Homo sapiens: one gene and its partner. The protein of the gene in region 1 interacts with the protein of each later gene in a biochemical or structural test. Each region holds a gene or a part of one and is shown in the gene's direction. Other genes may lie near its edges.

Region 1 (7,443 bases):
TAACTTGTAAATAGCTTTCTTTGGAATTGAAGGAGTCTGAGACACAAACATCTTGTAAAAGGGTCTGTTGAGGTATGGTTACATTCTTGGTCTTCTTTCTGTAATAGATAATGAGATACCAGAGAGGAGAAGAAAAACAATTGTTCTTGGTGGGTCCTGACTTTAGGCAGATAAAGAAACTTCAGGGAACAGCTTCGTCCTATGCTTTGGGAGAGACAGGGGTTGGGCAGGGGTAGAGGGGAAGGTCAGATAGACCTTAAGCCTTCTTCAGATCAGCATGTCAAAATGCCACATTTTGGGGTAACAGTTTCTGAGCCCCAACAGCCCTTATAGGTGACCTCTCTCCCAAGAACAACTCTTGCCAGCTTTTAGAAGCACTGCTTTCACTCTTTGCCCCTTGTTAAAGAAAAAGTTATTGCGACACTTGCCAAAATGGTAAGGATGATTTATTTCAAGACTATAGCAACAGGGGCTTTGTGATGGGGAGGAGCAATCACGCTCTACTCCAAATACAACAGGGATAAGTGAAGATTTACAGCCCAGGTGCAGGGTAAGGGTCAGTGGATGGAAAATTACTAAGAGGAGATATCAGTGCTGGCAGGATTCTTGCTAAACCCTTCTAAATAGGATTCTTGCTAAAGGCAGACCAAGGGCTTAAATATCAAAGGTGGAGAATGAGGAACTGAAGCAGATATCAAAAGTGATGAGATATCAAGAGTGGAGTAGGAGATCTTCCTAAACTCACTTCACAGGATCCTTACCGAGACTGGGCTAGGGAAACTGAAAACAGGACGGGGGGCCAAGGTCAAAGCTTAGTTGGGAAGAGGGCTAGAGGAGCCTGACTAAACTTTAGTCAAGGAGAGTCTTCGTCACCCTTCAGACTTCCTGTTGCCGATCCCTCCACCTCACCATCCCTTGCTGGTTCCTGCCTACCCTCTGCACATAGTCCTTTCATTAAACTCCCTTTGATTAAACCGTTTGAGCCACAGTTTCTCCTTCTTCTGCCAGGCCCCTGCCTGCTCATCCCTACCTACCTCACAGAGCTCTGTTAATTAATAAGAAGATGCACACAAAAGAGCTTGTGAAGCCTAAGTACAAGGAGACCATCTCCATGTTGGAGAGGAATCCCAGTACCATGCAAAGAGCTCTAGGCACCAAGGAAAAACTTCCCTTTTGCCCTCTGAAGTTCCACTGAAAATCAACTGAAAAAAAAAAAGGCAGATTCATAGGCGAAAAGGCATGCAAATTTTAAAATGTGCACAGGAGTCTTTCAAAACACAACTCAAAGAAATGGCCAGAGGGTGGACGCTTTCATATTCCATCTTGAAGTTACAGGAAGAATGGGGGCTTATGGTGTGTGGCAAAATAGGTTGGGGGGTGGTGGAGAAGAGGAGGCCTGGCTGGTAAAGTTGGGCTTGTTATGCAGATGAAACCTCACAGGTAGCAGGCCTAAGAGAGGACAGATTGTGTGTGTGTGTGTGTCTTTCAGACAGTTAAGGTGTTGAACTCTCAGTTAACCTTTCTTAGATCTGGATATGGGAGGTTCCACAGAGAAAGCCTGGCTGCATCAGTGCAGAGTTCTCTCTCCAGATGCAATCTCCCCAGTAAAAGACAGCCTTGCAGGGCTACTTCTGTTTGGAGGCCCTCTGAACAGCCATCTCAAAATATGTCAAATAATAGAGTGAAATATTTTGTTTCCTTCACGACACAGGCTTGGGCTCAGTCCTGAATTCAAATCCTGGCTCCTCCCCTTATTAGCTGTGCTGATGGAGGCAAGCACTTATCTTTCCTAAGCCTCAAGTTCCCATCTCTTTTATGGTCTTGGAGGACTGGATATGATAACACACCCGAGCTTCCTAACAGACTCCCCAGCACACGACAGGTGGTAAATATATGGTTAGTTTTCCTACCTCTTCCCTTCTACCCCTATTGTGAAATTGTCTTAGGCAGGTTTTAAGGACCTTTCAGGGAGCACTTCAATCCCTTTTCTCAACTCTCTGAGAGGCAGAGCTTCCCATTTAAGCAAGAATGGCTTGCTACAGGCCAGAAATGTATTGAATTGCCCAGAACTAATGTTGTTTTGTTTTTTCATCAGATATCACGAAGCTCTGGTATAAAGCACGGATTGCATTTTTGTGTTGTTTTCTTTTTATTTATTTCAACGCCAAACAGCCATACGCAGCGTTGTTACAGAAAACATTCAAACAACACAGAAATCTGTATAGTAAAAATTGCAAGTCCTTACCTCAGGCACTTTGCGATGGATATTTAGGGTGCTGCGGTTCAAGCAGCCTAGGAAATAACATTTTTCTTTCTAGCCTGAAACTTGAACCAATTGAGAAATAAGATCAAGACAGATGCGGCCAAATATCACTTTATAAAGTCAGTATTGCAGAATGTGGTTTATACTTGTAGGCAAGTGGGTTTCCTAACTAAACCCCAGAATTAGAGAGACAACAGTTCATACTGGACCAGTTCCAGTAGAGCCTCGACCACTAATCACAGCCTGGCCCAGGGAAATCCAGTTACAGGCTCTCTGTAGGGGGGCACACTGTCAAAGGAAGGAGAGAGGAGGGGACCGAACTCATGCCAGTTCCTTATTCCAAATGCATCAATCATGTAAGCTGGCCTCACCTGTGTATACGTGCCTGCATGCATGCTTGCGTGTGGGTGCACATGAGAGAGAGGTGGGGGATAGACAGACAGAGAGAGGGAAGGGGTAGAAACAAGTCAGGAGCATTATAGTAATGACTGCTGCCCATGAGAAAGAAAGAAATAAGGGTGATTCCCTTTCCCCATATATCATCTCGTTTCCTGCCACTGTCATAGTGCTTCCGCAAACATCCTTGCACATTTCATTAGGCCCTTGGGTGAGTATTTATGTAGAAAGAGTTTCTAGCAGGGGGTTGGTGATTATGTATACTTTAGGTTTGATGTGTACTGAGCATTGGTTTTGGACCTAGGAGCTGAATGGATTTTCCTCCCTTTTATTTCTGCTGGGATTTACCAGCCTCAATTTACTAATAGTCTCTTCCGGTAGGGAAGGCTGCTAAGGACAACACATTGTTACCTTAACAGCTGCATGGCCTTCTGCGTAAGGGCCAGTTACAGAGAGTCGGGTCAGCCATGTAAGGGTAGATTCAGGCTTTCCTGTCTGAGCCTCTGAGTTGCAGTACCCAGACATGTAATGAATCCTCCTCCACCTCCAATGCCCTCCTCTGTCAAATGGACATCGTATCACCTAGGGGTGTGAGGGAGAATTAAATGAGCTGATGTACTTAAAGTGCCTGGGAGAAAGATCAAGAAAGGAGGAGAGAGAAGAAGGAAGGGAGTGGGCACCAGTGCAGACTAAGGAAAATTGAGTTTGCAAGACCCATCTAGTGCTGGGCCCAGTGGCTCATGCCTGTAATCCCAGCACTTTGGGAGGCCGAGGTGAGAGGATCTCTTGAGCCCAAGAGTTCAAGACCAGCCTGGGCAACATGGTGAGACTCTCTTTTTTATGTAACAGTAAAAAAGGGCCATCGCCCTGTACTAAGAGGCCAAAAGAGACGCCTTGTACTAAGAGGACGTCTTGTACTAAGAGACGCCTTGTACTAAGAGGCCAAAAGCAAACCTCCAGGATACACAGCACCGATGGAGAGGGCTACTGGGACTACCTGCCTGAGGCTTAAATAGCCTCCCAGGGGGTTCATCCTCAGGACGGTCCCCAGATGCCTGAGTGTACCACAGATCCTCCTTGGTCATCATCAAAGGAGGAGTTCATGGGAGTGAAACTTCATGGAATTAGCGCTAATGACTTCAATAATGAAAAAATCGGAAATAAAGTGCAAGGTAGCTATCGGGGGGAATAGATGCAATGGGCCTCGACTGTGTGACAACTTTCAGTCCGAGAGTGGGTATTATCAGACGTGTTGTTAGGGATGAGAAAGCCGAGGCTTACAAAGGTGACCTAAGTTGCCCACCGGCCCCCAGCGAGCTTGCGCTTTCTGTCCGTGGACTCCAGAGACAGTGCTCTTTCCGGACCCGGGGTTGGGCGGGATTGCCGCGTAGAAGGCTAAGCCAGCGTGCCCTCTCCTGGCCTCCTCCAGCTTGGGCCCAGCCTGCGGGAGCCGACTCCGGGTCCCCGCGCCCTCCCTCTGCCTCCTCCCCTGCCAGCCTCCGCGCCGACCCCGCGCCAGTCCCTGCCGGGTGGAGGAGGCGCGCCGGCAAAGCCGCGTCCTGATCAATGGGGCGGGCGGCTTAGCGCGCGCGGCCACCTGGTCCGAGGAGGAGCAGTCCCGGGGCCCGCCGCAGGTCGGGTGGCTCAGCCATGGCTCCTCGGGGCGCAGCGGCCGGCCGGAGCCCGGGACCCTGCGCGGGGCGCTGAGCTCCCGAGCGGGCAGAGGGCACGGGCAGGCGGACGTCGGGGCGCCCTCGGGGAACGTGCGGGCACCATGCGTCCCCACCTGTCGCCGCCGCTGCAGCAGCTACTACTGCCGGTGCTGCTCGCCTGCGCCGCGCACTCGGTGAGTACTGCGCCCTTCTGCAGGCTGGGGACCCGAGGGAGCGACAGTCTCGCCCTTTCTCCGGCCTCGGGCAGGATGCAGGTGGAGAGGGACTAGCAGATCTTCCCATGAGGAATAGGGACTCTTCCCTCCCAATCCTCCCAACATTAATCTCTCCCAGCTCTTCTCCGGAGGGACCCTTTCCCAAAGAAAAACATCGTGCGCGCCAGACGAAGGCGGCTCTAAGATGAATCCCTGTGCCCACCACCGACCCCTTCCTCTGGTCTGGCTTCTGAAACTCTCCTACACGGAAATTCTGGAGCCGCCCGTGGCAGTGCCTACTGTGTCCTGGGCGCTTTGCCTCCAATCTTTCCTTGAAACCTGGTAATCACCTTTCGAGGCTGCTATTATCACCGTCACTTTACAGACAAAGAAAGGAAAGGAAAGGAGAGGAGAGGGGGAATAAAAATTCTTGCTGCAAGTCAGAAAAAGAGGATTGGAACCCACATCAGTATCAGTCTGCCCCCAAACCTTGACATTTTCACACTCACGGGCTGCGGATGGGAAAACCTGAGGGAGCTCTGGCAGGAGCTTCTGGGTCTGCGATGGGACCGCCTGCCGCTCTCCCCACACCGTCTCGTGTGGGATGCGGCTCCCTAATGTCTGCGTGCCTGGTGGCTCCAGGGCGCTGCTGTTCCCCAAAGCCAGGTCCTGGCAAGGGGCTGGAGGAGGAAAATAATAATAATAATAATAATAATAATAATAATAATAATAATAATAATAGCGGCAGGATGGGTGGTTTGTTTTTCTTTCCAACAGAAATTCCTGGGAGTCCCGGGCCTCTCTGAGCTCCGGGATCTCTGATAAAGAGAGTGGCCCCACCCAGACCAGCAGAAAGGAAGGAATGGGGAGGGAGTGGGGGTTAGAGGTGGGGGCCAGATTCCAGAATCATCCCTTCCCACTAGCATTCCAAATTGGTCCCCAAGTCGTCTCTTCCAAGAAGCTCCCCAGGGAACGCGCTTGGGGACCCAACTGAGTCTCTGATCTCTGTCCTGGGCAAGTCTCATGGTGTCCAGCCTCCTTGTCTTCCCTTAGTCTCCTCTGGTTTGATTATAAGGAAAACCAATGCTCCCGGAGCCGACCAGAGTGTTGACACTCAGGAGATGCTCATTTTTCTGGTAGCCCCAAGACTTTCAGCAGCAGTAGTTGGGATGAGTGCAATTTGGAGCTTGCTTGGAGCTCCCTTGCCACCGTGGAGCCTCCTCTCTTCAGTGGCAGTGCTGGCCTTGGAAGACGCTAGAGCAACAGCATGCACTCATGAGTTTTGACTCCCAATTTGGAGAAATGCCAACTGGGATACTGGGGACAGTGCAAAGCCAGGTAGAGCCAGAAGGTGTGTTATTCCGTGGCTGGGGGTGGGAGAGGCAATAGCTCCTTCCTTGGGACCCTCCCAGCCTCCTTCTTAAGTATTTGCAGTGACTCTGAGACTGTCGTAACTGGTACCTCGAGTGCAGGACTGAGGTTCAGCCTACATTTTTATCTCAAGGAAATCCCTGGATTATCACAGGAATAAATGGAAGGGGAAAATGAGAGGCTTCACTTGGTTTAAGTCTTCAGTGTACCTTGGAAGGATGCTTCATTATGCTATGGTCCCAATCCCTCATTTTAAAAATGAGCACACTGAGACTCTCAGAGAGAAGGGAGCTGCCCGAGATCAGCAAGTTAGTAGTAGAGCCGGGACTAGCAGCTCTACTCGCCCCACATACCCCACTTAACCCACTAAGGTTAGCACCCAGATCTCTTGATTCCCAACCATCCAGGGCTCTGTCTTTTATACCCCTTGTATTTCCTTTTTCTTTTTCTTTTTTTTTTTTCTTTTGAGACAGAGTTTCACTCTTGTTGCCCAGGCTGGAGCGCAGTGGCGCGATCTTGGCTTACTGTAACCTCCGCCTCCCAGGTTCAAGGGATTCTCCTGCCTCAGCCTCCCAAGTAGCTGGGATTACAGGCATGTGCCACCATGCTCGGCCAATTTTTTGTATTTTTAGTAGAGATGGGATTTCTCCATGTTGGTCAGGCTGGTCTGAAACTCCTGACCTCAGGTGACCTGCCTGCCTCGGCCTCCCAAAGTGCTGCGATTAGAGGCATGAACCACCGCGCCCGGCGGTCCCTTGTATTTTCAAATGTGCATTACTGCCTTACATAATCACAAGATGGTTTCCTGTGTATAAGTCGTGGTCCTTGGGTTATTTTACGGCTTCTGTAGACCTTAGATCTCACACTTCTTGGCTGAGAACTCCTGTAATAAATAGGAGTGGAACTGACCTACTTTGGTTGGAATATTTCCCAGCCTCTGGAGCCCTGCTTTCCTTCTGTTTGACTCTGGGTGGTCACACATTTGATTTTGAAATCTAAGTGTGTTCAAATAATTTTTTATTCATTTGAAGCTCCCCCTTGAGGGAGATTATAGGCATCTTCCCAATGGAGGGGGGTCAGTGAGGCCAAATTGCTTATTACCGCTCTCCCTCTACTCCATATAGGGAGGCGTCAGAAGTGACCCTTGTAAGTGAAACCCAAAAAGTGGCCGAATGGGGCAGTTTTCTGAGGCCTCCCTATAAGAAATACTGATCACAGCCCCCTCTGCGGCCCCACCCCCATACATCTCATGAGAACTTTTACCTGGAACATTACTGTAATTATTTACTAACACATCTGTCCCCCAAACCCCAATATGCACACTTTGAACTTGAACATGGAGACTCATCTTGTTCATCTTTCATCCCTAGAGTCTGTCACAGTGTAAGAAGGAGCTCAGTGAGTGTTTGTTGAATGAATGCATGGATGACTGAATGAAATCATGCTGATGCAGCAACAAATAAGGAAGAATCACCTCTTGAAAGCACTCCTTACTTGCTAAATTGTACAGAAATGTGTCAGGCTGTAGAGAAAGAGTCACTCAAGG
Region 2 (7,434 bases), on another chromosome or scaffold:
TTTAGTCATGGCTTTGTTAACTCAGGCTTGTATAATTCATGGAATAGTATCAACTGACTCTTCTAAGCAGCGAGCCTTCTCCCGTGTGCTGATGAGGCAGTAATCTGTGTGAGGTGTGCCCACTTTGAGCCAGGGGCTGCGGCCAGCAGCAAACGGGGGGCTCACATCCCAAAGAAGACAGACAGGAAGCAGATGTGTATGGAATAATAAGACCATGCTCTGTGTTTTGTGTACCATGCAGTCAAACTGGATGACCGGGCCATGCTAGTGTCCTCATTGGCTCCTATTCACCCATGATCTAAATCAAGGGTCCCCAACCCCTGGGCCACAGACTGACACTGGTCTGATATTGGATGAGTAAGCAAAGCTTCATCTGTATTTACAGCCTCTCCCCATCGCTCACATTATCGCCCGAGCTCCACCTCCTGTCAGATCAGCGGCAGCATTAGATTCTCAGAGAAGCCCAAACCCTATTACAAACTGTGCATGCGAGGGATCTATGTTGCATGCTCCTTATGAGAATCTAATGCCTGATAATCTGCCACTGTCTCCCATCACCCCCAGGTAGGATCTCTGGCTGCAGGAAAACAACAGCTCAGGGCTTCCACTGATTCTACGCGATGGTGAGTTGTATCATTATTTCATTATATTACAATGTAACAATAATAGAAATAAAGTGCACAATAAATGTCACGCACTTGATCATCCCAAAACCATCACTGTCCCTCCCATCACCTTGCCCCTTGTCCATGGAAAAAATGTCTTCCATGAAACCTGTCCCTTGTGCCAAAAAGGTTGGGGACTGCTGCTCTAAATAGTATGAGATGGGCCCGGCACAGTGGCTCATGCCTGTAATCCCAGGACTTTGGGAGGCTAAGGCAGGTGGATCACATGAGGTCAGGAGTTCGAGAACAGCCTGGGCAACATGGTGAAACCCTGTCTCTACTAAAAATACAAAAATTAGCCAGGCATGGTGGCAGGCGCCTATAGTCCCAGCTACTTGGGAGGCTGAGGCAGGAGAATCGCTTGAACCCGGGAGGCATAGGTTGCAGTGAGCTGAGATCACGCCATTGCACTCCAGCCTGTGTGACAGAGTGAGACTCCGTTAAAAAAAAAAAAAATAGGCCGGGCGCGGTGGCTCACTCCTGTAATCCCAGCACTTTGGGAGGCCCAGGAGGGCGGATCACGAGGTCAGGAGATCAAGACTATCCTGGCTAACATGGTGAAGCCCCGTCTCTACTAAAAATACAAAAAATTATCCGGGCGTGGTGGCGGGTGCCTGTAGTCCCAGCTACTTGGGAGGCTGAGGCAGGAGAAAAGTGTTAACTCGGGATGCGGAGCTTGCAGCGAGCCAAGATCGCACCACTGCACTCCAGCCTGGGCGACAGAGCAAGACTCCGTCTCAAAAAAAAAAAAAAAAGAGTATGAGATGGCCAAACATACAACATGTGACATTGGGTGGGTGAGATCTACAGTTTAGTGCTCACCTATTCTCACACAATGACGGGAGGAGGACCCTGTACACTGTGTGAGGCCACACAGGGGTTGCACTCGGGAGCACAATGAACAAGCAGGGGCTGTGGGAAGCAGGCTTTGTAGTAATAAGAGGGTGAGGCAGCCCCTGGTTCTCCTGGGAGGATGTGATTGGTTTCTTTCTTTCTTTTTTTTTTTTTTTTTTTTTGAGACGGAGTCTCACTCTGTCACCCAGGCTGGAGTGCAGTGGCGCAATCTCGGCTCACTGCAAACTCCACCTCCTGGGTTCAAGTGATTCACCTGCCTCAGCCTCCCGAGTAGCTGGGATTACAGGTGTGCACCACCACACCTGGCTAATTTTTGTATTTTTAGTAGAGATGAGGTTTCACCATGTTGGCCAGGCTGGTCTTGAACTCCTGGCCTCAGGTGATCCACCTGCCTCGGCCTCCCAAAGTACTGGGATTACAGGCATGAGCCACCACGACTGGGCATGGCTTGTTTCAATAACTTCTCAGCAGCTAGGGAAGTGAAGTCTGTGGCTGATGGGTGGGGTGCAGCTGGTCTGGTTGCTTGGTGAGACAGCCAGGTGGAGAGCAGCTTCTCTTGCCAGGCAGGGGGCATATTTGGCAAGAGTAGCTGAACGGTCGGTCAGGACATCGTGGTCCTGTGTGGCTCAACCATGCCAAGGCAGCACTGACATTTTAGACCTTACAAACCAGGCAGGCAGGGAAGGCACCTCCGGGCTAACCCTGAAGGTGGAGGAGAGCAGCCGGTCTTGTGATGCCACGGGGAAGTGCATCCCAGGCAGAGGGGACAGCTGGCACCTTGGCCCAAGATGGTGGTGGTGGGTGGGGGTCTGATGTATCTCAGGAGCAAATGTGGCCAGAGCCCAATGGTCAAGGGGGAGGCGGAGGGCTCAAAGGCTGGCCTGGAGGCTGAGGAGTGGAGGTTGGCTTAGGTAGGAGTCAGAGTTGGCCTGGAGGGGCCCGGAGGGGTGGCATGGGGCAAACTTCGATGATGAGGGTGAGATCAGATGCTGCTTCTTGGTGCTAGATTTTTGCACCTCCATGTGAGTTTAGCAGCCTGTTTGGGGTTGGCCTGGTCTGAGCTTGGAGGCAGGCAGCTCCTCCTCTTCTCCAGGCAGGAGAGACGGCTACTCAATCTACTCCGGCCCCTGCGCGCGTGCACGCACACACACACACCAACACACCATCATCAGTTACGTCCCCTCTGGGTTGTGTGCTCAGTGGCAGCAGGTCCTGTATGTCCCAGGGTCCTCATTGCCCAGCCCAGGGCTTGGTGCTGCCTGGGTGATCAGTGTTGGGTCCAAAGGCTGTTGACAGGGCTGAGAAGCCCCCAGAGGACCCACATCCCTAGGGGCAGGGAGGGGGCAAGAGAAGCTTCCCTTGAGTTTCCTGGAAGGATCAGGAGTTGGACTGGCAAAGGAGGCAGGTAGAGGAAGACAGAGATTAGGCAGAAGCAGGCAGTGGAGTAAGAACAGGGTGTTGGAGGAACTAGGCTGAGGTCTCTGCCATCAAAGCCAGAGTTTAGATTTGGTCTCAATAAACGGGAAGCCCTGGCTGGATGTGGTGGCTCACACCTGTAATCCCAGCACTTTGGGAGGCTGAGGAGGGAGGATCATTTGAGCCCAGTGCTCAAGACCAGCCTGGGCAACACAGTGCGACTCCGTTTCTAAAAAAAAATATATAAAAATTAGCTGGGTGCGGGCTTGCACCTGTAGTCCCAGCTACTCTCCAGGAGTCTGAAGCTGCAGTGAGCTGTGACTGCACCACTAAATTCCTGCCTGGGCAACAGAGCAAAACTCTGGTCTCAAAACATAAAAATAAAATGTAAAATAAACAGGGAGCCCCGAGGATTCCGGGCAGGAGGGGGTGTGGTCAGCACTGGAATTTTAGAAGAAGGGCAGTTGGTAGCTGGGGGAAGGGGGTTCCACACTGGAAGGAGGGGGTCCAGGACTTGGACATGGTATAGGATGTGCCGCCTGCCAGTGGGACCTAGGACAGCAGGACCATCACTGAGGTGGCCACACGGGGAGGGGCAGGAGGGGACACCCTGCTCTTGGAGAGAAAGGGGGTGCCCATCCACCCCTGCTGTATGAAGGGGAAAGGGGGACTCTGAGGCCCAGCGAGAGAGGGGACGGGCCCAAGGGATTTGTGGACAGTGGGGGTGGGGGAGAGGGGAGCAGAGAGCACAGATAGGGACCTGGGGCAGATGTGAGTCTGGGAGGTTCGACCCCTGGCTAGACTGTTTCCCCAAAGGGTCCTCTGCTCCTTGGGCTGTACGCACTGCACTGGGCACTAGATACAGGCCAGGGCTTAGGGCACGGCGGCGCCTGTGGGATCGGGGTTGCAGGCGGCGTCCAGACCCAGGGGCCCCTGGTGAGGGGCGGGCCCGGGGAGGGGGCCATAAGGGGCTGGCTGGGGAGGGAGGGAGGGAGAGGCCAGGGAAGGGACAGGTTCCGAGTGGACGCTGGGTGGAGAGGAGAGGGAGAGTGGGGGCGGTGGGGGGTCGGGTCCGAGGCGGGGCTGGTGGGGAGGGGGGCATCCGGGGGCGAATCCGGGTAGGGGGTGAGGAGGCGGGTTCGGAAGGAATCGGGCAGGGCCCGGGTGGGTCCGGTGAGTAAGTGAGGGGACGATCCCCGGAAGGGATCGGGGCGGGTCGGGGTCCGGAGATGGGCGGAGCAGGCGTCCCGGGAGGGTGCGCCCAGGAGCGGGGCGAGCGGGGCGAGCGGGGCGGTCCCGGAGACGAGGCGGGTCCGGGGAGGGGGCTGGCCCGGGGCTGCCCCAGCTTGGCCGGGCGCGGAGCGGGGCGCATGGCGCCGGGCGCACTGCGCGGGGGCTGCGAACAAAGGGCCCCCGGCGGCGGCGCGAGGACGGCCGCGCTCGGACCCTGGCCCTGGCCCAGCCCTGGCCCGGCCCCCTCCCCAGGCGCGGCGCCCCCCAGGAGCCGAAAAATGAGCGGCGCCCTGCTCTGGCCGTTGCTCCCGCTCCTGCTCCTGCTGCTGTCGGCGCGGGACGGCGTGCGCGCCGCGCAGCCTCAGGCCCCGTGAGTATCCTCCGGCGACAGAGGAGGTCGGTCGCCTTCTGGGGTGGGGGTCGCGGGTACTGGCTCAGAGTGTTGCAGCGACCTGCCCAAGGCCACACAGCCTCCGCGCTGGGCTGGACCTGGCCTCTTGTTCCCGAATCGTCTTGAGGAGGGGGCGCCCTAAAGTTTCCGAAGTGGCTCTGTGGAGGTACAGGGACTCCCAAAAGCTAAAGGTGCTGAGGTCAGCTCCCCCCGCCCCACCTCGCCCCCTTCGTGTGACCCGGGCTGTCATCATGGGTGGCGATTTCCAGTTGTCCAAGGTATGAAGGTAAGAGGAGCGTCTTGGCTGAGAAGTGGGAGGAGAGTGCGAAGGGGCACTTTCCCGTGGGTGGGCGTGGTGAGGGAGGAGGAAGTGTTTGTTTTGCTTCTACATTTTTCTAGAGGTTTGCTTGCAGGCTTCTGGTGGGTTGACAGCGGGGAGAAGGTGAATTAACTAACTGCTGGGGAGTACTGCTAAGTTGGCTTCACAGAGAATATTTCTAAACCTGGCAAGTTCGGGTGAGCTCTGCAGGGCTGCGGGTTCAGGGGGGCTGCCCTGGTCTGCACAAGACCAGCCTTTTAGTCCAGCTGGGCGTTTAGAAGGCGGCTTGTTCAAGCAGCCCTTGTTTAGGAGTTTCCAGAAAACTGGTAAGCAGTGAGACTAGGTGGGTGTCGTTATTTGCAGTGAGTAGTTGGTCCTTGCTGGTCACAGTTTTAAAAGCAAGACAGTCTACTGCGCTCTGAGCATCCAGACTTCCCTCTCCTAGGCTTCGTGAAATCGGAACCCTACAAATTTTCATCCTAATGCTTCTTTCAAAGCTGGCATCCCTTAGAATAGTGGTTCTCAGCCCTGGGGGGGATTTTTGTCTCCCTGAGGCCGCTGGGAAATGTCTGGAGGTATTTTTGGTTGTCACAAATAGGGAGAGGCATTTGGTGTTGGCATTAAGTGGGTGCAGGCCAGGAATGCTGGTAAACAGCTTTCGATGTGCAGGTCAGCTTCCACTGCAAGGAATGACGCGGCCCCACATGACAGACCTTGGCTCCAATGAGAGACCCTGCCTTATACAGAGGTTTTTGTTTGTTGTTTGTTGTTTTTGGGGTTTGTTTTTGTTTTTGTTTTGAGATGGAGTTTTACTCTTGTTGCCCAGGCTGGAGTGCAATGGCACGATCTTGGCTTACTGCAACCTCCGCCTCCCAGGTTCAAATGACTCTCCTGCCTCAGCCTCCTGAGTAGCTGGGATTACAGGCGTGTGCCACCACACCCGGCTAATTTTTTGTATTTTTAATAGAGATGGGGTTTCTCCATGTTAGCCAGGCTGTTCTGGAACTCCTGACCTCAGGTGATCCACCCACCTCCGCCTCCCAAAGTGCTGGGATTAGAGGCGTGAGTCACCGTGCCTGGCCCGTTAGAGAGTTTTAAACAGTTCTCCAGGGCGTTTTCCTCTGACTAAAGTCACCCTGTGATCTTACCATCTGTTAAGTGACATGGAATCCCTGTGCTGAGAGACACACTGGGGAAGAGATGTCCCCAAATGACCGACCTGGGATTCCAGATTAGCTGGCCTCTAAGCCAGGGGCATGGTTCACCCAGCCCAAAGGATCTCGTCTTAGGAATAGCTCTGGATGCCCACTTCTGTCACCTGAGAGATTTTTGTGTGAGGAATCTCTGATCCCAGAAAGCAGCACAGTTTGCAGTTGTAAGAGCAATTCTGTCTACACTGACCCAGACATCCCTTTCCCCAATCTGGGACCTTCTGAGACCAGCAGGATGAGAAGCAGTGTTGGCCCAGATGCTAGGGGTGGGTCAGGTGTGACAGTGAATGGCTGGCAAGCATCCCAACAGCTGGAAACAGCTGCAACTTCTGAATGGCAGGGAAACTTAATTTGGTGATGTCAGTTTCTCTGGGCAGTTGGATGAAGACTTGAACCCGTATTGTCAGGAGTTTCAAAGGTGACCAAGCAAAATGAACACGTATTCCTTACTCTCTCTTCTACACTCACCATGTACTATATGTGAGGCCCGTCTAAACTCTAGGGATCAGCTGGGAGCCAGACAGAAAGAGTATTCCCCTTTTAAAGGATGCCACATTCCAGTGCTGGAGCTGGACAGGACACCTGGACAGGGTAATTGCATGTCCTGGTCAGTGCTGGAGTTATGTAATACACAGCACATACCCAGGGTCTTGCAAACTCCAGTTGGTCCTAGAGTTGGACAGCACATGTGTGATCCCAGGGGACTGAACTCTGGTAATTATTCAAGGCAGATGTAGCACACTATGATCACAGGGTCAGTGCACACTGTGGCCAGGGCTGCAGTAAACAACCCAAACCCATTGTTCGTGTGCATGAAACAACACAAACCCACTGCGTCTTTTGAGATGCAAAATTGGTAATGATGTTTTCATGAAGTTTGGTTTATCAGTGAGTTATTTTATGGATCTTATTTTTGGTATCTTACTCAAGAAATCTTTGCCTAATCTAAGCATGCAATGACTTTCTCCTTTGTTTTCTTCTAGTGTTTCTACAAGTTTTACTTCTTCAATTTAGATCTGTTACTAAGATTAACTTTGAGTTAATCTAATTGCATGGTGTGAGGTAATGTTCTCAATTCATCTTTTTGCATGTGGATGTTGGGTTGTTCTAGAGACACTATTGAGGCCAGGTGCAGTGGGCCTGTAATCCCAGCACTTTGGGAGGCCAAGGTGCGCAGATCACTTGAGGTCAGGAGGTCAAGACCAGCCTGGCCAACATGGTGGAACCCAGTCTCTACCAAAAATACAAAAATTAGCTGGGTGTGGTGGTGCACGCCTGTAGTCCCAGCTACTCTGGAGGCTGAGGCAGAAGAATCCCTTGAACCTGGGAGGTGGAGGGTACAGT

What was found.
Region 2: the proteins of SCTR (region 1) and CPAMD8 interact in a test that uses a peptide from one of them, tested with the Homo sapiens proteins (one study listed by BioGRID).

The regions. Positions count from the first base shown.
Region 1 is NC_000002.12:119,521,217-119,528,659, reverse strand, and holds the start of SCTR (secretin receptor precursor), read left to right. Parts: upstream 1-4,176; 5' UTR 4,177-4,433; coding exon 4,434-4,505; intron 4,506-7,443.
Region 2 is NC_000019.10:17,023,656-17,031,089, reverse strand, and holds the start of CPAMD8 (C3 and PZP-like alpha-2-macroglobulin domain-containing protein 8 precursor), read left to right. Parts: upstream 1-4,279; 5' UTR 4,280-4,306; coding exon of another isoform or gene 4,307-4,447; coding exon 4,448-4,539; intron 4,540-4,614; exon of another isoform or gene 4,615-4,846; intron 4,847-4,957; exon of another isoform or gene 4,958-5,076; intron 5,077-7,434.